Linked DNA regions of Homo sapiens: regions 1 and 2 are each linked to region 3. The links come from fine-mapping of genetic effects on gene expression. A gene starts in region 3. Each other region holds a variant in brackets. All regions are shown on one strand. Distances are between the middles of the regions.

The links. PIP is the estimated chance that this variant, and not a neighbour inherited with it, causes the effect.
Region 1: its variant is fine-mapped to the expression of VGLL4 in caudate (GTEx, PIP above 0.99).
Region 2: its variant is fine-mapped to the expression of VGLL4 in whole blood (TOPMed, PIP 0.98).

What each region holds. Positions count from the first base shown.
Region 1 is chr3:12,485,555-12,493,737 of GRCh38, forward strand. TSEN2 (tRNA splicing endonuclease subunit 2) reads left to right here. Exons shown (of 12, transcript NM_025265.4): 2 at 4,230-4,435; 3 at 6,582-6,663. The coding sequence starts at 4,247. Among named protein-coding and RNA genes, the nearest start is that of TSEN2, 5.2 kb to the left of the region's middle. The variant G/A (reference allele first, on the strand shown) is at 3,972.
Region 2 is chr3:11,549,724-11,557,906 of GRCh38, forward strand. It overlaps ATG7 (autophagy related 7), which reads left to right. Exons shown (of 21, transcript NM_001349232.2): 21 at 5,088-7,942. The coding sequence ends at 5,120. VGLL4 (vestigial like family member 4) reads right to left here. Exons shown (of 5, transcript NM_001128219.3): 5 at 6,346-8,183. Among named protein-coding and RNA genes, the nearest start is that of VGLL4, 90 kb to the right of the region's middle. The variant T/C (reference allele first, on the strand shown) is at 5,105.
Region 3 is chr3:11,640,536-11,648,718 of GRCh38, forward strand. VGLL4 (vestigial like family member 4) reads right to left here and starts at 3,380. Exons shown (of 5, transcript NM_001128219.3): 1 at 2,902-3,380. The coding sequence starts at 2,983. RefSeq lists enhancers at 1,964-2,333, 3,524-3,603.

The DNA of each region.
Region 1 (8,183 bases), 850 kb after region 3:
TTACCAGTGGTTAGCTATATGTTAAAATCAGCTGGGTCCACCCAGGAAATTCTGATGTAATTGATTGCAGGTGAGGCCTGGGCATGAGGAGTTAAGGGTAGGTAAGCTTGAGGGCCACTGTGTGATGTACCACTCCCAGGTTTAATTTTCTTAATCTGCATTTTTCAATCATCATTCTAAATAACCTGCAGTGACTCCAATTCCAAACCAACCTTTGCATCCCAAACCTCTTGACAACTGACCCAGTCTTTCCTATATGTTTTTGTGCACCTCAGGCACCGCTCTTCTTTCATATCTGTGGAATGAGGATAGTACAGTCAGCTCTCGCTATCAGGTTCCGAATCTGTGGATTCAACCAATGTTGCATCAAAAATATTTGGAAAAAGAAATTTAAAAATATATATATATAACAATTATTTAGTATTTACATTGTATTAGGTATTCTAAGTAATCTAGAGAAGACTTAAAGTAGATGGGAGGATGGGCATAAGTTACATGCAAATACTACATTTTATTTAAGGGACTTGAGCTGCGGATTTTGGTAGGGGGTGAGTCCTGGAACCAGTCCTTCTGTGGATACCAAGGGATGACTATAGTACCCACATGTGCAGCACATGCAGTGAGTGCCTCTGGCATCTGGTACCTACCTATGACAGTTTCCTCTTCTTATTTTACTCACATCCCACCTCTTACAGCATGCTGTTCTGCCGCGACACTAAAGAACCTTCTTGAATATCCATTGCAGATATGGGGAATGGTAAATGCAGTCTTTTCTCCTCTGCTTTGCCTTTCGAGTTCAGCACAGGAGGACTCTTCCATGAAACTAGAGATCATCTGATTTGTCCTCTTGAATTTTTCCCCCTGGGGAAGTGAGCTCTACCTTCCCTGAGGGTTTCTTTCTATCTTTTCTAGAAGCTTCACGCTGGTATCTGTGAAGTCATTCTTGCAGGACATGGCCTGGGGAATGTCTTTACTTCTGAATTTTTTAAAATAGCTTTATTGAGATACCATATAATTCTGTAAAAGTCACCCTTCTGAAATGTACGAGTCAGTGGTCTTCGTATTCGCGGAGTTATGTAACCATTACCATCACTACAATCTAATTTTAAAACATTTTCGTCACCCTCCAAAATAAACCTCCTGTCTTATTAGCAGTCGCCCCCCCATTTCCCACTTTTCCCTGTCTCTGGCAACTGGTAATCTGTCTCTATGGATTTGTCTATTCCGGAAACTTTATCTTAATTGTCTCGTGGTCTTTTGTGTCTGACTTCTTTTAGCATAATGCTTTCAGGTGTTGAAGAATGTATCCGAACTTCATTCCTTTTCTATGGCTAAGTATTTGATTATATGGATAGACCACATTTTGTTGATCTGGTCAACTATTGATGGACATTTGGATGGCTTCCACTTTGATGCTATTATGAATAATACTGTTGTGAACATTCACATACAAATTTTTCCATGAACATATGTTTTCATTTCTCTTAGGTCTATACCTAGGGGTGGAGTTGCTGGATCATGTCGTAACTATGTGTTTGACATTTTGAGGAACTGCCAGACTCCTCCAGTCCTGTTCGATTTGAAGATGAAACTGGGCTTAGAGAAAGTGGGTTGTGCAAGGTCACACAATAATAATGGCGGCTTTGCATGTCTGGAAGGCCTACTGCGAGCCAAATTCCTGAGGGGTGTGCAGCCACATGAGCAAGAGTAACACAAGAACTTGGATTATGAGGGGTGTTTTGTCGCAGGGACCCTTCCATCCCACACACCTGGGTTGGAGTACAGAGTTCTTTCGATCAAGTGTCACAGCTAAATCTTGCCTTTTTTAGATGTGACAGCAGTCTGAGAGGGAAAAACGCTGAACAAATGAGGCAGACTAAAATACAACTCTTATTTGTTGAGAGAATTTATTAGAACTTCTTGAAGGTGGCCATTAAATCTTTTTTCATTTTTTTAAAATTCCGAATGTAATGTATATAAGTCAGCTGCTGAGCAGAGGTTATAAAAGTGAAAAATCCCATAAAAGTCCAAACCATTCCTGGAAGTCTTTCAAAAAGTGCCTTACTAGAGACCAACATCCTGCCCCCAAAAAGCAGTGTTTATTTTCAGTTTTAGAATAAATTATTGTCTCTCCAATTGAGTACTAAATGTGATAATTTAGTACTTGGGCTGAGGGATAAGTCAGCAAGCAAGGTAAAGCCTAGTCTAAATATGCTCTTAAGAAAATCTCTTAGGTTTCCTGTGAGCATGCAGTAGACGTGGTTTTGTTATAAACACTATACAGCAAGATGCATGCATAAATATAAAATGTACAAAGTAATGCTCAGTATGTAATTCCTTCAAGGAACCTTATTTAGAAATTAATCTAGCATGTTGCTGCTTAGAACAATGGCAATTCTAGGAAGGTTCCAACTTCCCGATTCTTCTTTTTCATGGTTATCTTTGTAATTGATGTATCATTTCCTCTAACTCCTCTTTAGTCTGTGTTTTTCTGTGTCCTCATATAATTCCTCAGCTTCTTCCTTGAGAAGTTGGATACTGATATCATCACACGTTGGATAAGCCTTTTCTTAATGGTCATGACACTCTTAAAGCCACTCACCTTCCCCTCCCTCAGTTTTGGCCACCTTCTTGACTGTTTCAGGCTTGATGGCATCCCTTGCCAATGGGATGCAAGTACTGAGTGCAGGAGCCACCTAAGTAATTAGTCTTATTTTTTCCCTTGTGAGGATTCGGAGTCATGTAGGTTAAACGTGTGTATGATTTGGCCGCACTGTATCTTCAAGCACCAGGTAAGCTCTCAGTTGAAATCAAGTCTAGACCTAGTACTGGGGGAGCAGCAGATTCAAGTTTCCCATCTCATTCCAGGACAGCTGCTCCTCGAGTGGAATGTCTTGCACCATTTACATTGTTTTCCCATGTATATGGTTACGTTTTCCTAGGTTAAGTGCATCTACTGTATCTCTGTGTCTGCATCACACAATATGTTCACATTTACTTCCCTCCTTTAGACATTAGTGGATAACAGCCAGTTCCGTTAGCTCCAACCTGCTTTCTGTGCTTCCAGCTATGTTATATACTTGTTTTGTCTCCTTGGATCCAATGTATGGCCCCAGAGGGACACGTACTGGCTTTGGCTTTCTGTTCTCCCTCATGGTGCTGGGTGCACAGTGGGTAATTCCGTTACTGCTCAATAACCCTTCACCGTCTGATTTTGAGAAAGAGTCATCAGACAAAAGTAGATAGACCCTGCCTGTGCTTTCAGCAGAATCTAGAGAGAGGGCATGGGCTTGGGAGTTCAACAGACCTGGGTCACCCGATGCCACCACACTCGGGGTCGTCTACAAATCTCTCTAACCTGAATCTGTTTCCTATTTGTAAAATGGTGTTGCTACTGCTCACCCTGTAATACTAATTATAGCTGATACATGAATGGTACACGCTATGTGCCAGGTACTGTTCTAAGCACTTTATGGATCTTAACTGTAAGATAGAGTCGTTCTTATCTTGATTTTGCAGGTGAGGAAACTAAATCACAGAGAGAGTCAGTGACTTTTGCCCAAAATCACACTGCTAGGAAGTGGTAAAGTTGATTCTGATGCTGATAGTCTGGCTTTAGAGTCCCTGCTTGAAGCCAGTAGCATTTGGTAGTATATAATCGACCCTTAAATAACTGCTGCTGTCATTATTATTTATTAATGTACTTTAAAAATTGGGAGCTGATTGACCCAATGTTTAGTGTGTATTGTAAGATCCTCTTGGAAAATGAAGTGCCTGCAAGATTTAATTTGTTGAGGACAGGGTCTCAGTTTTGTCTTTGTCTCCCCAGCACCTATGATTATTAGGAATTCCTGGTAGTAAATGTCTGTTGGGTGAGTGAAATGGAAGCACTCCTGGTAGACAGAAATCCTGTTGTGCTTGCTCTCAGGAGACCTAACATTGCAGCTTTGGGCATGTCACTAGGTCTCAGC[G/A]TTGTCAGCTGGAGTAGAAAGATTACCACTCATTTCCTGGGGTTTATTGTGGGGATTAATTGCAGTATTCTAGGTCAATATGATTTACATTGCTCACACAAACTGTTCTTACTGCTTTTAGTTTATTGCTTTATAAATACTCTATTTCTTCCCACAGACCACTAAGTTTTCTGAGCCTAGGTACAGATGTACTCACATTTTGGATCAAGGTAGTTATTGATTGTCTGTTTCTTTCTGTTTGTTGTCTACTCTTTAAAGAATACCTCCTCTGAAAAATGGCAGAAGCAGTTTTCCATGCCCCAAAGAGGAAAAGAAGAGTGTATGAGACTTACGAGTCTCCATTGCCAATCCCTTTTGGTCAGGACCATGGTCCTCTGAAAGAATTCAAGATATTCCGTGCTGAAATGATTAACAACAATGTGATTGTGAGGAATGCGGAGGACATTGAGCAGCTCTATGGGAAAGTAAGTGCAGGCAGCCTTGGTAAGATTACTTTCAGACAACCCTGAGCAAGCAGTCCTTTCCTTCTCCCCATCCCAGCCATACCCCCACACCAACCATGAACAATGTGTATTCTTTCCTTGCGGTTTGGTCCAGTTGTAGGAAAAGTACAATTTGAATTAGTGCCCAAAAGCCATATGTTAGGGTAATAGAATGACAGATGGAGCACCCCTGCCCACAAACCTTTATTTCAGTGATGAAGTAGGTTCAATGGATTGACTATTTTTTTTGTCTTTAGTTGTAAAAGCAATGCATGTTTGTTAAAGGAACAAAAAAAGTAATTTACAGAAATGTAATGGGTAAAAAAGTGAAAATTCCCCACTCACTCCCATCCCGTTCCCAGAGGTAGCCACAGCGTGGCATAGTGTCCCTACTCAGGCACGGATCAGATGGGGCTTTGGCATGGAGCTCCTTATCTGCTGCCTCCTGGTTGGGGACCTCTTCTCAGATGAGGACAAGTTCTAGTTTTTACTGTTTTCCAGCATTGATCAAGTTGAATGAAGACTGGTAGTTCTTTAAAAAAAATTTTCCATAATCTGTTCATTGCTGTGGGCATTTTTAAAAAACAGCTTTATTGAGTTATAATTTACAACTATAAAGTCCTCCCATTGTAAGTATACAATTCAGTGATTGTCATAAATTTATAGAGTTGCACAACTCTCACCACAGTCCAGTTTTAGAACATTCCCATCACCACAGAGTTCCCTTGTGCCCATCACACTTAATCCCTGCTCCCACTCCCGGCCCAAGGCAGCCACGGAATGGCGTCTTGTCTCCATAAATGTGCCTTCTCTAGACACTTGATAGAAGAGTGGGTGGCACTGGCCATGGTGAGGCAGGAGTCTCAGTAGGCCAAGGGCAGCTCACCAGGGAGGCCTTCATTTACAGTATATAACATTAAGCAAGAGGCTTTATAAAGTGCTGTATGCATTATTTATTCTTGGTTTTTGTTGTTGCTGGGTGTTTTTTTTGTTTGTTTTTTGTGACAGAGTCTTACCCTGTCACCCAGACTAGGGTGCAGTGGCATGATCTCAGCTCACTGCAACCTCTACCTCCCAGGTTCAAGTGATTCTACCACCTCAGCCTCCCGAGTAGTTGGGACTACAGGCGCATGCCACCATGCCTGGCTAATTTTTGTATTTTTTGGTAGAGACAGGGTTTCACCATGTTGGCCAGGCTGGTCTTGAACCCCTGACCTCAAGTGATCTGCCCACCTCGGCCTCCCAAAGTGCCGGGATTACAGGTGTGAGCCACCATACCTGGCCTCTTTATTCTGATTGTTAATCTAAATGGAGAAAGGGGTGTTTGTTTTATTCTTTCAATTTTCTGTGTGTTTAAATATTTTGTAATGAAAAGGGGAAAAATACATGTTGTTTTTGGAATCAGCAGGAATGAGAGGAATACTTCAATTCTGGAGTACAAAAGAATCCAAGAGGTTTTTTTGGACCTAGTGGGCAGCATGGCTCCTGCCTTCAGGCACACTGTGTTCCCGAACCATATGTAGAGAAGAAACTCTGCCTCTGCCTGCCCTCGGCTTATCAGACCTAGACTGAAAGCATTAGTTATGGGATAAATGAGGTGTGCTAAAAACTTACTAGTACTCTTGAAGCGATTAGAAAGGTGTTACGCTAAGAACATCCTTAGTCATCATTAGATAATCAGAGGGAAAATGTAAAGACATGAAAAGTGGGGCGAACCTCTTGTTAACTCAGATGGGTACAGTCGGCCCTCCATATCATGGGTTCCACTTCCGTGGATTCACCCAACCTTGGATTGAAGATATTTTGGGAGAAAAATTGCATGTGTACCAAACGGGGACTTTATTTTCTTATATTAAACAATATAACAACTATTTACATAGCATTTGCATTGCATTAGGTATTATAAGTAGCCTAGAGATGACTTAAAGTATATGGGAGGGCCTACGTAGACTATATATAAATACTGCACCATTTTATATCAGGGACTCGACCATCTGCCGATTTTGGTATCCACCAGAGGTCCTGGAACCAGCCCCCTGTGGATACTGAGGGATTACTGTATATTCTACCTCAGCTAAAAAACTGGTAACTAAGCATGAACTAACTTCATTTTCTCTCTTCCTGGAAGGGTTATTTTGGAAAAGGTATTCTTTCAAGAAGCCGTCCAAGCTTCACAATTTCAGATCCTAAACTGGTTGCTAAATGGAAAGGTAAAGTTGTTGTATCATTCAGTTCTTTTGACAAATTAATCATTTTCCTTTGTTTTTGATCTTATATCTCAGGCTATATAGTAAAATTCTAGAGAAGTAACATGTACACTGGCAGTTTTACTGCCAAAGTTAGCTAGAATAATTCTAATCAAAGCAAAAGGGTTATGATTGGGTGACAGTGTGTTTAATTTCTAGAATTATCAAGTGTTAATTGGGCTTTTCTGTTGTTAAGTGTTTGCTTAGCAGAGTACTATGCCTATGGCAGGTACTGGTAGTTAAGTACCTGCTCACCTGTGGCACTATGCAAAATTTTTAAAATTTTGTTTCCAGAATTAGAATTTGTAATAGCCATGACATGTATGTGTGTGGTTCTCCCTTGCTGATTCTCTTTAATTTATAAATGTTTTAGAATATTTATCTAAGGAATTCTCATGGTAATTACTTAAGAACCAATACCAGCATGTTAAAACATAATTAGAAAGGATCTTTTAAAGGTTTTATTGTAAGAAAATATACAGATTAAAACTGCACTGAGATAACATGTCAACAATCAGGCAGAAATCCAAAAGTCTGACAATATACTGCATTGGTGAGGACTTCAGAAACAGACCTTCTCTTGCATTGCTGGTGGGGTGCTTGTGGTACCACCCTCATGGAGGTGAATTTGGCAATGTCTAGCAAAATTACCTATGCATTTACTTTGTTTTCTTTTCCCCCATTCCTCTCTTTCCTCAGTCCCTGGTAACCTTTATATGTTTTCTGTCTATGAATTTACCTATTATAGATATTTCATATATAAATAACAATCATACAATATTTGCCCTTTTGTGTCTGTTGCTTTCACTTAGCATATTTTCGAGGTTTGTCCCTGCCATAGTGTCTATCAGAACTTCATTCCGTTTTATAGTGGAATAATATTCCATTGTTTGGACATAGTGCCTTTAGCTCATCTGCTGATGGACACTTAGATTGTTTCTGTATTTTGGCTTTTCTGAATAATACTGTTGTGAATATTTGCATACACGTATCTGAGTCTATTTTTAGTTGTTTTGGATATATACCCAGGAGTAGAATTAATGGGTCATATGATAATTGTCTGTTTAACATTTTAAGAACTAGCTAAACTATTTTCCACATTGACCGCATCATTGTACATTCCCACCAGCAATGCACCAAAGGTTCCAATTTCTCTACATCCTTGCCAACACTTGTTTAAAAAAATAATAGTCGGCCAGGCGCGGTAGCTCACGCCTGTAATCCCAGCACTTTGGGAGGCCGAGGCGGGCAGATCATGAGGTCAGGAGTTCGAGACTAGCCTGACCAAGATGGTGAAACCCCATCTCTACTAAAAATACAAAAATTAGCCGGGCATGGTGCTGTGCACCTGTAATCCCAGCTACTCAGGAGGCTGAGGCAGGAGAATCACTTGAACCCGAGAGGCAGAGGTTGCAGTGAGCCGAGATTGCACCACTGCACTCCAGCCTGGGCGACAGAGCAAGACTCCGTTTCTAAATAAATAA
Region 2 (8,183 bases), 91 kb before region 3:
CATGTGTTTTCGTTTCTTTGGAGTAAACAGGAGTGGAATGGCTGGATCACATGGTGAGCGCACACTTAAACAGTCACTAGACCTTCCTCCAAAGTGGTTTTGCCAGTTTCCATCCCCACTAGGAGCAGTGTGTGGGCCCTTCCTGCCCCACATCCTCACAGACATCGGGCATCGCTGGCCTTTAGCTTCAGCTCTCCGAGGAGGTGGGGTGCACTGTCTCTTTATGGTTTTGATTTGCATTTCCCTGAGGACTGCAAACTGCACGTCTTTTCTTATTTGCCATTATATTTCCTCTTTGGTGAAGTTTCTCTTCCAATCTTTTCCCCAAAAATCAAGTTTTTGTCTCTTTATTATTAAGTTGTAAGAGTTCTCTTTATTTTCTAAATACAAGTTCTTTTAATATAGAGATATTTTCTCCTAGTCTGCAACTTGCCTTTTCATTTTCTCAGTGGTATCCTTCCAAGATCAGAAATTTTAATTCTTGTGAAATGCAAACCCATTTTTTTTTCTGGTTAGTACTTTTTGTGTCTTAAGAAACCTTTGCATTTCCTTTATTATGAGTAGGGCTGTGCATCTTTTTTTTTCTGTTTAAGGGCCATTTGCTTATTTTTTCTGAGAACTGGCCGTGTCTTTGTCCACTTTTTAAAAATTTGGTCTATTGGTCTTTCTCTTCTTGAATTTTATTTATTTCTTTGAGACAGGGTCTCACTCTCTGTTGCCCAGGCTGGAGTGCAGTGGTGCAGTCACAGCTCACTGCGGCCTCTACCTCCCAAGCTCACACCATCCTCCTATCTCCTGAGTTGCTGGGACTACAGACACATGCCACTATGCCTGGCTCATTTTTAAAAAATTATTGTAGAGAAAGGGTCTCCTTATGTTGCCCAGGCTGGTCTTGAACTCCTGGGCTCAAGTGATCCTCCCGCCTCAGCCTCCCAAAGTGCTGGGATTATAGGCATGCCTGGCCTCTCTTCTTGATTTCTAAGAGCTCTTTGTCTATTACCGAGATGAGCCCTTTATGGTATGTTGTTATGTTTTCTCTCAGTTTGCCTTTTTGACTGTTTTCCCGTGCATATTGCATGCATGTGTTTTTGCAGAGTCCAGTGTATCCATTTTTTTATTGCTTATGGATTTGGGATCATAGGCCTTCCCTACTCCCAGGCTATAATGAGCTTACCCGTGTTTGTATCTAGTATTCTTATGGTTTCATTTTCTCTAACGTTTGGATTTTTATCCCATTTGGAGTTGATTCTAACATGCGGGGTAAGGCATGGAATCAATTTTATCTTTTTCCAAGTGACTCTCTACTTCTCTTCATATCAGTTTTTTAAAAAGTCTATCTTTTCGTAATGAGCCGAGATGGCACTCCCCAGGCCATTATCATTAAAATCCTTGATTTCCACATGTTCTTGGACATGGTCTTCTCGTTTCTGTACTCGTCGTGTCCTGCGGGCCGTCTGAGTGTTCCGTGCTGACGCACCCTCTCCTCCTCGGGGGTTTCATGGCGTCTCCCTCGGCCCATGGTGGGGGCTTCTCACCGCTCTTCTGTTCGGAGGGTTTCCTGGGTGTGTCTGCTTCCTGTTTTTCCACATAGCCTAGAACCAGCTCGCCCGGCTCCAGAAAACATTTGTTAACTTTGAAAATTGAGACTTTGTTAATGTATTCACTTTGAGAAAGCTGACATCTTTATGGATGTTGAATCGTCCTATGCAGAAACAAGGGGTGTGGCTCTATCTACTCCAGTTTACGTCTTTCCAGGAGAGATTCTTCTAGGACTGTCGCAGCTGTTTTAGAGGCTTCATATGGATTCTGTACATCCGATGTTAGGTTTATTCCCATGTGTTTAGCTTTTTCACTGCTTTTATAATTTTTTTTAAAGTTTTTATTTTTATAGAGAGAGGGTCTTGCTCTATTGTCCAGGCTGGTCTCAAACTCCTGGCCTCAAGCAGTCCACTCGCCTCAGCCTCCCAAAGTGCTGGGATTACAGGCACGAGCCGCTGTGCCCAGCCAATATAATGGGTTCTTTTCTTTTCTTTTTTTTTTCTCGAGGCAGGGTCTCACCCTGTCGCCCAGGCTGGAGTATAGTGGTGCGATCTCAGCTCACTACAACTTCTACCTCCTGAGTTCAAGCCATTCTCCTGCCTCAGCCTCCCAAGTAGCTGGGACTACAGGTGCCCACCACCACGCCTGGCTAATTTTTGGATTTTTAGTAGAGACGGGGTTTCACCATGTTGGCCAGGCTGGTCTCGAACTCCTGACCTCAAGTGATCCACCCGCCTTGGCCTCCCGAAGTGCTGGGATTACAGGCGTGCGCCACCACGCCCGGCCTCTTTCATTCTGTTTTGAACTAAACATTGTTTGCACTGCATGTGGTGGGTTATAATTGGTTGTTGTCAATTTTATATCTTGCTCTTACTAAATACTTTTTCATTTGTATTCTAAGGATATCTTAGCACTTATTTTATTGGGGTTTCCAGGTGTGCTTTGATATTACCTACAAAGAGATCATTTTTCCTTAGGGTTGAATGTTTTTAAAGGTTTGTATTACATATTGCCAAATCTTTTAAAAAATATGGTACCAATTTATACTTCTCTTGTGGCAGTGTTTTGCCATACCCTTGTCGGCACTGAGTATTGATATTTTTTAAAATGTGCCAGTTTACTATGATCTTCACTAAGAGGACATTCACTGTGCCCCTTCTCCACACCAGTTGCACTGCCAAGGACACAGCTGCGGTGAGGACACAGTAGAGCCTGCAGATCCCAGCCCCCAGTCCCACTCCAGTCCCTGTCCCTATCCCCAGGAGTCCCTGTTCTGGTTATTTCTTGAGGTTTCAAATGAAGATGGCTGCTGCCCTCTGAGCCCAGCCAATGGGACGAAGCCAGTGGAGAGCCCGTCCCTGCCCCAGAGATTCGCTCTGGAAAATCCCTGAGTGGTTTTGTAAAATGCATTTTACAAAATAATAATCCCCGCACAATAAGTCTTCTGGGTGTCTCGCAGGATCCCCTGCACAGCTCAGGCACTGCCAGCAGCCGCATCCCCTCGAGTGGCTCAATCTGTCCAGGAGCAAGGGGTCAGCCAGGCACCTTCCAGGGCCAGTCCCAGGCCACCCAGTCCCAGTGTGGCTGAGCACCTATGCCTCTTCCCCATAGCTAAAAACCCAGTAAAATGGATGATAAAATGGGTAACACCTCCCTGAAAGTTTCTACTTTCCTATAAAGCCCAGCCCCGGCCCAGGCCCGAGTCCTCTTATGAACAGAACAACCCCAACCACCCATTTGCAGAGGGCACTGCTGTTTGGTACTGACCCTGCCCTGCCCAGGCTGGCAGCCCTCCAAGGAGGCTGGGCAGGAGGTCCCGGAGGACACGGCCCACAATGCTCACCCTTTTCATTCTCCATCTTGCCCCATCACCTCCCACCTCGGCCCCTTCCTCCAGGCAGCCCGCCCCGCCCTTTTCCACACACCCCTGGTTCCCAGCACTGAAGCTTGCTTGCTGTGTGATCTCAGGCCAATTGCCTTACCTCTCTGGGCTTGTTTCCATCTTCACCTCACAGGTAGATGTGAGGTCACCTCACAGGTAGATGTGAGGAGTGAAAGAGGGAGTATTCGCAGCAGGTCTACACAGCGTGTGGCACAGAGCTGGCTACATGAATGTGTGTTCGTTGAATGGGAGAGTGAAAGAATGGATGGATTGTGCTGGCAAACCCTCCAGGGGCTCAGTTTCTTCCACTCGGACCATCAGAACCCAGAGATCAGATCCAGGAGCTCCTAAATGCAACCTTTGTTAGAAACACAGCTCCCCTGCCCTGCACTGCTCAGTCCCACCCTGGGGGAGTTTCCAGCCGCACTGAGGATGAGCTCGGTGGGGACCTGACCCAGAGATAGGGACACCTGGTCACTGGACCGCAGACCGGCCCATCCACAGCCTGGCTGGGCTGGCATCTAGACCTCGCTTGGCAGTCCCCTCCCAAGAGCTCAGATAGTTTGGCCTCGGGAGACAGGGGCAGTGAGAAGGCTGCCTCCCCTCAGCCTGGGAGCTGGGTCCTCAGGAGAGAGGAAATTTCCTTCTATTTATTTTCGACATCCTCGACTTTGAAAGCCAAGCTGGTGTTGATATTTACCTTGGCCAGGCCTCCCATCTCCCCGGGCCAGCCTCGTGTAAACATGCTGTTCCTTCTCTCAGCTCTGCTAGCACTGAGGTGGCCTTTTGCAACCAATTCTAGGAATTTGGAAGTCTGAAGGCGTAGGTTCAGGGACTGGCCCTCCAGGGAGCCCTGGGTGCCAGGGGCCCTGGGACCTGCTGTGCTGGCCTTGGGCTCTCTCCCTGGGGGCTGACACCAAGGACTGCAGGGAATGAATGGGCCTGGGCCCATGGGGGTGTCGGCCAGGGTGGCTCTTGCTGGGTCCCTCAGTTCTCCTCACAGCCACGTTGGGGCCTCCTGCTCCCCAGGTTCACTGCGAGGCTCAGACTCGGAGGACACGCATTGAGGGACTGTGGCAGGATCTGGCTGTCTCCACTGTCTTTGCTCCAGGCCACCTCCACCCTGGCTGGTGGGGAGGGCTTGCTCTTGAGCCAGCTCTCTAGTGTGAGTTGGGAGTGTGGGCAGCTGGACTACAGTTAGAGGGAACATGGAGCAGGTGCCCAGGGTGCAGCCTCCCAAGGCAGCACGTGCCCATGCCAGAATTCCTGCCCTCAGGGAGCTTGCCTTCCAGAGGGCAGGTGGACCACAAGGAGAACAAGCTGGCTTGGGGTGGGGGTGAGTGCTGCAGAAGCCAGGATGAGCAGAGGCTGGCTGGGTCAGGGACGGTCCCCCGAGGTGGACATGCAGGAGGTGAGCAGAGGCACATTCCCCAGTGCAAATCCCAGCCCTCCCCTGTTGGTTCCACCAGGTGGTTCACACACTAGTGACGCCTTGGCAAGTCTGAGATTTGGTTTCCTTGTACAGAAATGGGGTGACAGTCCCTCAGAAACAAGGGAGTGGTTCTGCAGGTGGGAGCTGCCATGACTGCTGCGGTTTTGAAGCATCTGTGTGCCCCCCACCGGGCAGTGGGACATCTCGGCTGAGCCTCTCCCCTTCTCCATGCAGATCTGGGACATGAGCGA[T/C]GATGAGACCATCTGAGATGGCCCCGCTGTGGGGCTGACTTCTCCCCGGCCGCCTGCTGAGGAGCTCTCCATCGCCAGAGCAGGACTGCTGACCCCAGGCCTGGTGATTCTGGGCCCCTCCTCCATACCCCGAGGTCTGGGATTCCCCCCTCTGCTGCCCAGGAGTGGCCAGTGTTCGGCGTTGCTCGGGATTCAAGATACCACCAGTTCAGAGCTAAATAATAACCTTGGCCTTGGCCTTGCTATTGACCTGGGACTTGGTCCTCCATGCAGTTTTTATTTCTTGTCACAGTGACTGATAGCCATCCCCCAGGATCCTTTCCCCTTGGCCCTGAGGGGGTGACCCAACACAGACCAAATGGGGAAATGAGCAACCAGCTCCTGCCCAGAGCCACTGCGGGAGGTGGCACCCTCATCCCCGGAATGTGCTGCCCACCGCACCGCAGGCTCCTCCTGTGGGGGCCCTGGGCATGGGTGAGGGTGGGACCCCGTGAGCGCACTGCACCCTGGCCCTGGTGGAGCGGGAGGAGGAGGAGAGCCGAGCTGGGTACGAGACTAAAGGGCCCACATGACCCAGTGACGCCAGATTTCCACCAAGGACTGAGTGAGCTGCTCAGACATGGCTTTCTGCCTCCCAGCCTGTCCTCCACTGTGGGCATAGCATCTGTGCCTGCCTGCCTGCTTGAGGGAGAGGAGTTTCTGCTGCTGCCTTGAGCTGGGGGGAAGAGCCCAGGGGCAGATCCTGGCAGCTGCCTGGATGGGGCTCCTCCCTGCCCTTATGAGCAGGCCAGGCCCAGAAAGGCCGAGCCTGGGCTGCCTTCCTGCCCCAGCCGAGGGAGGGGTCAGACGGCTCTACCATGGGTAACTCAGGCAAGAGCTGGTTTTCCTCTTTATTCTGGGTGTGTGCAGCTGTGAGGCCCCAACCCAGGAGAGGCCATGGCCTAGGTACCTGTGACCACCCTGCCCCCGTGTAGAGGGCATCGTCTTTCCTGCTATTTTATTCTTTCAGCTTTTGTCTTAGGCCCAGAATCAAAGTGAAAATTGAGTCGAGCTGACCCTTACAACAGTAGGATTTAGTAGGGTAGATTTCAAATGAGGCTTCGCTTCTCCCAAAGTAGCCAGTCCAAGTTCCAGTGGCTGTCGTTCAGCTCATGGGAGCTTCATGGGGACACAGCCGGCACAGGTGCAGGGCCCGAGTCCGCCCACCCAGCCTGGCGCTGAAACTGCACACGTACACTATGTGGTTTAAGAGCACTTTATTATTGTTCTTAAGGCTACTTTTAAGTACAAAAAAAGATGGCCTGCCAAACCTTTTTTTTTCTTCTTCCAGGAAAAACAGGCCACAGAGAATGGTATATTACAGATTTACACACATGAAGAGAAGGTCAGAGCGCACTGCAGGCAGCGCGGCTCTGGGAAGAACTTCACGGAGCCCCTTCTTAGAGCAGGGAGGGGGCTTTCTCAGTGAAATGTTTGGTTTTCTGCTGCCTCCTCTGCCCCAGGCCCCCCTCCAGGGTACTGCCTATCCCAGATAGGTCAGTGCACCAGGGACCCGGCCGCCAGCACCGCCGACCCCTCCCAGAGTGACGCCCTTGTTCACTGACAAAGAGACCTGTCCCAGGAGTGTCCTCCACCGAGCCGGTCAGCTGTGGGTGGTTTTCCTGTTACGACGCTCAGTAGCCTGTAGCAATAACAAACTCGTGGCTATGAATGCAGATGCAGTGTTCTCATAGAATAACTGTTCCTGCACTTTTACAGACAAATCTACGACAAAAAAAAAGATCAACTTTTTTTTTCCGAACAACAAAAAAAATGAATGATTACAATAGGAAAGGGAAAAATTAAATAGCTACATATCATTAACAAATTAATGTTCTTCAAAAAATACCTACAAATTTCTCTGTACATTCTTTACGCACAGCGTAACGATGGTCTCAAAATCACCCATATAGAAAAGTGTTCTCAACGATTTTTCCTACAGAAAATATAGGGGCCTGAATGCCAAAGCTTGGAAGCCCAGTACAGTGGGAGTGAAATGTGTGCGGGGCAAGGAGAAGGGCTTTTCTTTCCTCCACTTTTCAAAGGCCTGCAGCCACTCTGTGACTACAAGAGCCAGTCCTCCGACCTTTTCACCCAGTGCCAATTTCCAAAATTCAACAGCTAAAAACTGTAAAACCGGGGGTCATACGGTGTGCAGAGTCCACAAAGCCTTGCAGGTGAGGTGACCACGCCCACGTCACCTGGTCAGGTGCCATCGTCGTGAGCCTCTGGTGGGCCAGGTGGGACACAGCACACCCCAGGGGGAGGGGATAGAAACGCTCATTGACCAAAAAGGAGCAGCTGTGACCTCCACAGCTGTGTCTGTCATGCTTGCTTCATCTAATTTCTAGTTAGTAGCTATTAATATAGCAAATAATAAATGCAGTAATAACAGTATAAAGTCAGAGGAATGTATACTGCCTTGGCCCCAGCGTACGAGGAAGCGTATAAAACACCATATCACAGATTGTCTGTCAGTAATCTGCTGTTCAGCCAAGAGAGTTCAAAGGGAGCAGTTTCTGCATGTAGGGAAGTTGGAAGACACAAACCCCACCTCCCCTGGGAGCTTGTAACAAAGCAGACAGGGATGCAAAAATAAATGATGTCAGCCTGCAGCCAAACTCCAGCATCCCACACCGCAGCTGACCCACTGCTCATCGCGAGGGCCTGCCAGGAGCTGGCCTCCCGCACTACTTGTGAGTAAAGTGAATATCAAATACCAATCTTAGAGTACAACTGTACCAGCAGTAAGTATATCTAGGACTGTAACTGACAAAAATAAACTAATTCTGAAAAGAAGATAGTAAGTATTAAGGTTTTTGTTTACTGTCTATATAATTAATAGAAACCAGCTATTTTTTCTCCATTAAAACATGCATCACGTTTAAAGCACTATGGAATCCTCCAACCTCAGCTCTAGTCTAACAAACTGCAGTGTTCAGAGAAGATAAAATGCCCGTGATTGGTAGAGTCTGCAGTCCAGTTGCAAGCACCTGAAATCTAGAGAGAGAAAGACCTATAACCTGTATGAGACTTCCCC
Region 3 (8,183 bases):
GAATTAGTTAGCTTCCAGAAGTCAGCCAGACTTCGATTCTTCCGGCCCTCTCCCTAACGTCTCCTTCTCCCACCCCAAACCTGCTAATTGTGGTTAACTTTTTCCCTTTATTCTTTTCAGTTATTCTTGCAGACAACTATGGTGGAGGGCAGGAGCCAGGAAGCAGTTACCAAGGAGGGAGTCCACATCTAAGCAATATGGAGTCAGTCAGGAAGGAAGACCTTGTATGCTACAAGGTAAACGGCTAAAAAGATCGATTTGCGTATTAAGTCACAAGAGAGGTTTAAGAAAGACAGTACAGGCTGAGTGCGGTGGCTCATGCCTGTAATCCCAGCACTTTGGGAGGCTGAGGTGGGTGGATCACCTGAGGTCAGGAGTTTGAAACCAGCCTGCCCAACATGGTGAAACCCATCTCTATTAAAAATACAAAAATGGGCCGGGCATGGTGGCAGGCACCTGTAATCCCAGCTACTCAGGAGGCTGTGGCAGGAGAATGGCTTGAACCCGGGAGGCAGAGGTTGCAGTGAGCCAAGATCGCGCCATTGCACTCCAGCCTGGGGGACAAGAGCGAGACTTCATCACCAAAAAAAAAAAAAAAAAAAAGACCAGACACATGGTTTATTTTAGAGTAGAGCTATGTCTCATACAACTAAGGAATATGGTATAATTTAGCTGGTAAGAATAATTAACCATCCGCATCTTAATTTTTAAAACTAAAATGTCATAAAATTAATTTGTCCCTTATTCTTAAGGGGCATGAAACTTGACTGTGCCCTAAATGAAATCAAATGTTGCCTACCAACAGTACATTCCATTTTCCAAACAACTTCCCTGGAATGCTGGGGAGCTGATATGTTTAAAACGAATATTCTCCAAGTCCAAGTGTTGGATTTTAAAGAACCATAACCTTTCCAACTTTTCCTACAAAAAAATCCCGTGTGTGATTTATGCCCATCTTCAAAACACCCTCTGGAGTTCAGACCAGATGTGTGCAGTGTTTACACTGAGAAAACCACTAGGACATCAACAATTCACTATAAACACCACTCAAATTTTGCTGTGCTTTCCTTCATTTCCTCTGTATTTATTCTGGTGTTAAAATAATGTTAACTCTCATAATAAGGAAAATAGGAGCAGATGTTTAAACCAAACAGACTTCAGCCCATTATCCCATATAGCTACTCAATCTTCAAAATCAAAGTTTCTTCCTCCCAAATACCGAGAGAGAAGAGCAGAGCAGAGCACTCTAGTTTCCTGGGTGTTGCATGCTACACAACAACTCGACCTGGGCTCGCTGTCCGTAAGTTGGTCCTCACCAATCGGAGACAGGAAAAACTAATCTGGTATCAATTTCCTAACAATCTTATATTTCTCTCTTAGGCCATTATGTTTTGTTTTTAAAATATCGTATTACTTGTTGGCAAAGACAATACAACAGAAATTGCCTCAGAAGTTTTTCTTTCTTGTTGGGGGAAGCGGGGATGGTTAAAAAAAAAAAAAACAAGAAAAACAAAACCCTGACTACAATGTGTGAATGTCACGGGAAACAAGCCCAGCAATGGCTGCTTACGGCTTTCTAAAGTCGGCTGCCTTTTTTAAGTGAGTTCAGAAGCAAGATGTTACTTAACACATCAGATGCAAAGAAAGAAATTCACGAAAATTCTCATAGCAGGAACTAGTAGGAGTAAAGAAAAACAAATACTCTTTTTAAAAAACGTTAAATATGAGATCCTCATCCATAGAGTTTTAAAAAACAACGTGAATGAGGGTTGTTGTTGTTTTTTTTCCTTGAAGGGGAAAAATACTCTTGAAAGGGTGAGTTTTCAACTGATTAGGAAACAGGCCTGAAGTTTTTAGATTAAAAAAATACAAGTGAATCACCCTCCCAAGTTTTTGTAACTGTTTTCTTTTTCAAGAGAAATGTCCCGTGTATTATTGGAGAAAAAATGGAAACTGCTCCTGCTGAATGAGAAAGAGAAGAGTCCCGGATGTGTGTGTGGTTACAACAGAAAACACTCTTCCTGCCAGGCCGAACTCCCCCGGAGATGCCCTCGGCGGCAGACCCAGGGCCATTGCCACTTTTTCAAATCGCACGTAGAGGATGTCCGAGGGCTTAAGAAATAGATTTTTCTCTGACTGCTACCAGAGACAGTTGGAAATACAAGACAGTGGGGGAAGCACCTCGCGGGCAGTAGGAGGTAATAAATAACAGTTCGGCGCGGCTCTCTCTTTTTCAGGGCAGGCTGGGGGTCGGGGTGTTGTGTAATCGCTCCCACAGGGAGCGGAGCGCGAGGAACACCCCCCAGTGTCAGCGCTCCCCGGGCTGCACAGGAAGCGCCAGCGAGACAAAGAGCCCGCCTGTGCTCGCTGACACGGTGCCCTTCCGGCCCCACGCGGGAGAGGGACATTCTCCGCTGTTTGGGACGCTCACTCGCGAGCACAAAAACTCGCTGTAACTTTGGCTCCCCCTCCGTGAGCTGCAGGGCGCCGTGGCCCACAGCAGGGTACAGTAGACGGTGCAATCCTTACCAGCCCCTCCCCCAAAGAGGCTCAACTTTTACCGGCGTCCTACAAGTCCTTCCCCTAAAGACAATATTAACGGAAATCAAAAATACATACATTTTAAAGAGTTAAAAATGTGAGGCGCGAGTACGTTGCAAGCAACGAGCAAACTTTGAAGGGTTTCTACTTCACTGCCTCCCCGTCCAGCCCCCTCCACCGCCCCCCGCAGCCTGAGATCCGAACACACTCGGTGCCGAACCGAACCTAAGAAACGCCGGCCTTTCAAGTGCCCTACACCCCGGAGGAGGACAGCGGGCGCTTAGAAGGCAGGCACCCAGCACACTGAGGAGGAGTGGCCGGGACGAGCAACGGGCAGTAATTCTACAACGGGACATCTACCTTCGTAGCACAGAATGCCGATATTGTTGTTCATCTTGTCCAAGTACTGATAGTTCAACAGGTCCATCTTCATAAATAGCATTTATTGGGCTAGCAAAGAAAACCAGCTCTTTGCTTTTGCCCCAAAAGAGTTAAGTTTCAAAAATCAATTGTTGCTGAGTAGCTCCTGGCTCTTCAACTTCACAAAGGCAGAGGCCCAGCCTCAGACTATCAAAACAAAGTATGCAAAAGTTAAAAAAAAAAAAATCAGGCACAAAAAAATCGAGCTCACACGAAACCCTTCAAGGGCTTACTGGTAGACGGTGTATGTACTGTATCCCCGATCGAGTATGAAAACAGCGTTTCAGAAGTCCTTACAAGTCCTTCCTGGAAATGGAAAAGAGTGAAAAAGAGAAACGCGCAGCCCGTTTCCTAGGACAAAGCGGCGCCGGCCCCTCTCACAGCCCGCTGCAAGCCGGCAGCGCTGACATGAGGGCTATGCTTGGCATGACTCCTATGCCGCCGCTTCCTCTTCCCGCAGGAGGCCGAGCATGCTCACTGCGCCGCGCTGCCGAGGCAGGGAGGGCTTCTGCACAGGATCAGCCTCTCAATGTAGCAAGTGTTGGAAAGAAAGAGAAAGGGGAGGGGGAGAGACTCTAGAGACGGGGCCTTGGCAGAGTGGCTCTTGACAGGAAGCAGCCAAGCCGCTGCAAAACCGTAGGAGGAAAAAAGAAAACCCAGGAAGTTTCTTTTTCAGGAGCTAAGTACAAAGTAAAAAATCCATCATGGAAGCAAACTCCCATGGAATGCAACTTTCGTGAAACTTCATGTTGGGGTTTCGGAAACCCAAAGTGCTAGTGATGCATAAGCCATATATATATATATAGTGTCTTTGTTTCTTTTAAAGATTGTTTTATAATATCCATTTACACTTTAACTGGATATTTAAATTTCTGATGTTAATGTTACATATAGCTTCTTCCATAATCCCCATAACAACTGAGATGGACAGGGCAAGGAGGGTATCACCCTTTCACAGCAGAGGAAACAGGTTCAGATGGATTAAATGACTGGCCCACAGCCCCCAAAATAGTTGACAGAACTACTTTTAAAGTGTTTTTTCCCACCTAATGTTATAATTTTATTTAAAAAAACGAGGGGGCCGGGTGTAGTGGCTCACACCTGTAATCCTAGTCGAAGCAGGCGGATCACTTGAGGTCAAGAGTTCAAGACCAGCCTGGCCAGCATGGTGAAACCCCATCTCTACTAAAAATACATAAATTAGCCTGGTGTGGTAGCGCACGCCTGTAGTCCCAGCTACTCAGGAGGCTGAGGTGGGAGAATTGCTTGAACCTGAGAGGAGGAGGATGCAGTGAGCCAAGATCGTGACACTGCACTCCAGCCTGGGCAACAGAGTGAGACTTTGTCTCAAAAAAAAAAAAAAAAAAGAAAAGAAAAAAAGGAGACAAGGAGAGGAGAAGAGATGGAAGAGTGTTTAAGCAAATAGGGCTATAATATCAAAAATTAAAAGTGTACTTGAAATTATAGAGGGAAAGGGTAAAATTATTTTCATTTGGCATGTATGTCACCCACCTGTGTGTAAGAAGCTAGTGGCATGCAGCTGTACTATTTGCTATTGGAAGAACTTGGGGCTTAAACTTTGATTACCCAGTGCCTAGCACAACCAAGTTCAGGTGCCCAAAAACTGTTTACTGAACGAGTGAACCACTGAATGTTCAGTTTTCAGCACATCAAGAACGTGTTAACAAAATAGAAAAAAAAAAAACAAAAACTAAACATTTGAATTACTATTCTAAAAATATATTTTTAATATTCCAAAATAATATTTGAATAAATAATTTGAAGGAGTTGTATGTTAAAAATCCAGCAATAGGCCAGGCGCGGTGGCTCACGCCTGTAATCCCAGCACTTTGGGAGGCCGAGGCGGGTGGATCATGAGGTCAGGAGATCGAGACCATCCTGGCTAACACGGTGAAACCCCGTCTCTACTAAAAATACAGAAAATTAGCCGGGCGCGGTGGCGGGCGCCTGTAGTCCCAGCTACTCGGGAGGCTGAGGCAGGAGAATGGCGTGAACCCGGGAAGCGGAGCTTGCAGTGAGCCAAGATTGCGCCACTGCAGTCTGCAGTCCGCAGTCCGGCCTGGGCGACAGAGCGAGACTCCGTCTCAAAAAAAAAAAAAAATCCAGCAATAGTTGCATTGGGTTTATTAGGCACACTCATGGCAAGGTGTTCTAATGAAATCTTACTTGGGAGTCCGGATGCGGTGGCTCACGCGTGTAATCCCAGCACTCTGGGAGACTGAGACGGGCGGATCACTTGAGGTCAGGAGTTTGAGAACAGTCTGGCCAACATGGTGAAACCCTGTCTCTACTAAAAATACAAAAATTAGCCGGGCATAGTGGCATGTGTCTGTAATCCCAGCTACTAGGGAGGCTGAGGCAGGAGAATTGTTTGAACACGGGAGGCAGAGGCTGCAGTGAGCCAAGATTGTGCCACTGCACTCCAGCCTGGGTGACAGAACAAGACTCCGTCTCAAAAAACAAAACAAAACAAAAAAACTATATGACATCTAAATACTAAATACTGTTGCCGTCATTGCTGCAACAGTAATCACTGGGGTGACATCAGGGGAAGTAAGTAATAGGGGAATCAAGATTTCACAAGCTTTCATTTATAAGAATATTTATTGACACTATATTACATGTAATAAGCTATAGTGAAAGATATGTATCCTATCAATTGTAATTAAAATACTTAATGGTATTTGGTGGGGAGGGTTGAAGAAAACTCAAAACTCGTAACATCCAGTATACATGAGATCATTGCACTGAAAACAAACAATATCAGGTATCAGATTTAAATTTAACTGATAGTTTTGGAGTACTCTTACTGTGCTACGTTTTTACATAAATTCTCAATCAGAAAACTTTATCCATCATTGTCCCACATGGAAGAGAGGTGGCTGCACATTAGAACCAGGGGGGAGCTTTTAAAAATCTTGCTGCTGAGGTTGCATCCCCAACTCATCTGAGGTGGGAACCAGCAGCAGTAGCTTCTAAAGTCCCAGGTGATTCCAATATGCAGTCAAGGTTGAGAACCATTGCTTTCATCTAGGGAGGAAAAAAAAAAAAACCCTGCCTTAAGATATTTCATTTTATTCACTTATTTTGACATGAAGAATTTTTTTAATAGTAATTTAAGCAAATGATTCAAACAATACCATTGTAGAAAATGAATAAAATATTTGGTAACGTCCCTTAAGGGACTCAGCATCACTTAGAACAGCAGTTCTCAGCCTCCGGGTGGCAACCATTTTCGTGGACACCGTCTCACAGGTCTACCTTGACTATTGTAACATTCCCAGCCACAGCCACCACGTCTTTCCCGCTGATCCGGGAGGCTAGCACGGTGCTACCCAAGTGTGATCCAGAGGGGTTCGAGCACCAGGTGTTCCTAGTCCCCAAAAGCTAGATACAGAAACGGAGAATGAACATTTAAAACTTTTATAGCAATTCGATAGACTAATTTTATGTCTCTCAAATCTTAATATTAAAGAAATTTGAGGGCTGTAGTTTTCGTATTTCTAGTTATAGGGCTGCATTACATTTTATAAACTATCAGTCTGCAACAAAGTCTTGGGGAAAAATGAAACAAACCTGGTTTCACAGAGAAGCTTGTGCTCCAGAGGGGCCAGCTACAACAGCCCGCCTCTGCAGGCTGGGAGCGCCTCCTGGACCGGCTCTAGGCCTTTCCATCCCAGCTCCTGACAACTTTCACCTTAGTTTCAAGCACACTGGATGACCTGCAGTGAGTTATTCCACAAAGCACATCAGTATGCTTCTCGGTGTGCAGGACGTCTCTTCTTTCCCAACCTGTCTACTCAGCAAACATCCACTCTTCCTTGAGACTTGTCAGAAAGCCCCTCTTGTCCTGTGAAATCTCCCTACGATCCCATCCTACCATCTCCTCACACCCTACGCCAAGCTATCCTTTTACAGGGTAAGTAGTCCTTATCCAAAATACTTGGACCAGAAGTGTTTTGGATTTCGGACCTTCTTGGATTTTGGAATAGTTGCATTATACTTACCAGTTGAGCATCTCTAATTTTAAAGTCTGAAATCTGAAATGCTCCAATATGAGCATTTTCACCTGAATGTTGTGTCAGCACTCAACACTGTTCAGATTTTGGAGCATTTTTCATTTCAGATTTTTGGATTAGGACGCTCAACCCATACCTTATATGTGCTTCTTTCCTAGCCTAGATCTTCGGAGCAAGGACTATGCCTTCCTCACCTTTTCGAGGTCAGTCTGGCAGAAGTCTGGCAGAAGCCTGGCGCATGGTAGGCCATCAATAAATACCAGCTGAATAAAATCAGTAAACATCTAAACGGCAGATTCTTCATTTCCCCATCCCTACTTCCAGCACACTCTGGATTATCTTACTCGATGTCATTAGGTGGCTGTCAACATCTCTTGGAGACCACAGGTCCTTGCCTTTAAGAAACACCATGTAGATTCTGATTGTACTTCAGGGTACAATCAGCTCATCCATAAAAAAAAAAAAATACTAGAAAATATCAATCCTTCTCAGATTCATTCATAGGATAATATATTCATAATTAAAGTAGCAACAGGATAGTTTTGTAGGGAATTGGAAAGATGGGTCTAAATTTTATCCACACACACAAATGAGATGGGAAAAGCTAGTTCTTTTTCTACGAATGAATAAGTTTGATCTATCAAATATTTAAAACATAAAGCAAAGAATATATTTTGGAGTGTTACTGGGTAGAGACTAGGTAGGACCAGACAGATACTGTGGATATAGGAATCAGAAATCCAGGCCAATGGGGAAGAAGTGGATTACAAAACAAACATTACTGAGAAAAGAATCCAGATAGCACTTTGCCTTATACTGTACATCAAAATAAATCCCAAATGTTTTAAAGATTATTTAGATGCTTTTAAAGTAAGGTTTTTGCTGCAAAAACTTACAAAACTATAAGGATATGTTCAGACTATCTGATGTGGAATAGGAAAACATTTGCTAAGCCAGAAATAAAATTTTTAATCAAAGACAGAAGCCACCAAGGAAGATGTAGAATTTGATTGAGAATACAGATTTTATGCTTTTATACATCTAAAAACACCAAAACCAAGTAAAGGCAAAATACAAAACTGAAGAATATATTTGTGTCATATATTACAGTGAAGGATAAATGTTCTTGGTATTCAAAGAACATTTAAAAATAGAAAGAACAAAGGAAAAAATTGAAAAACC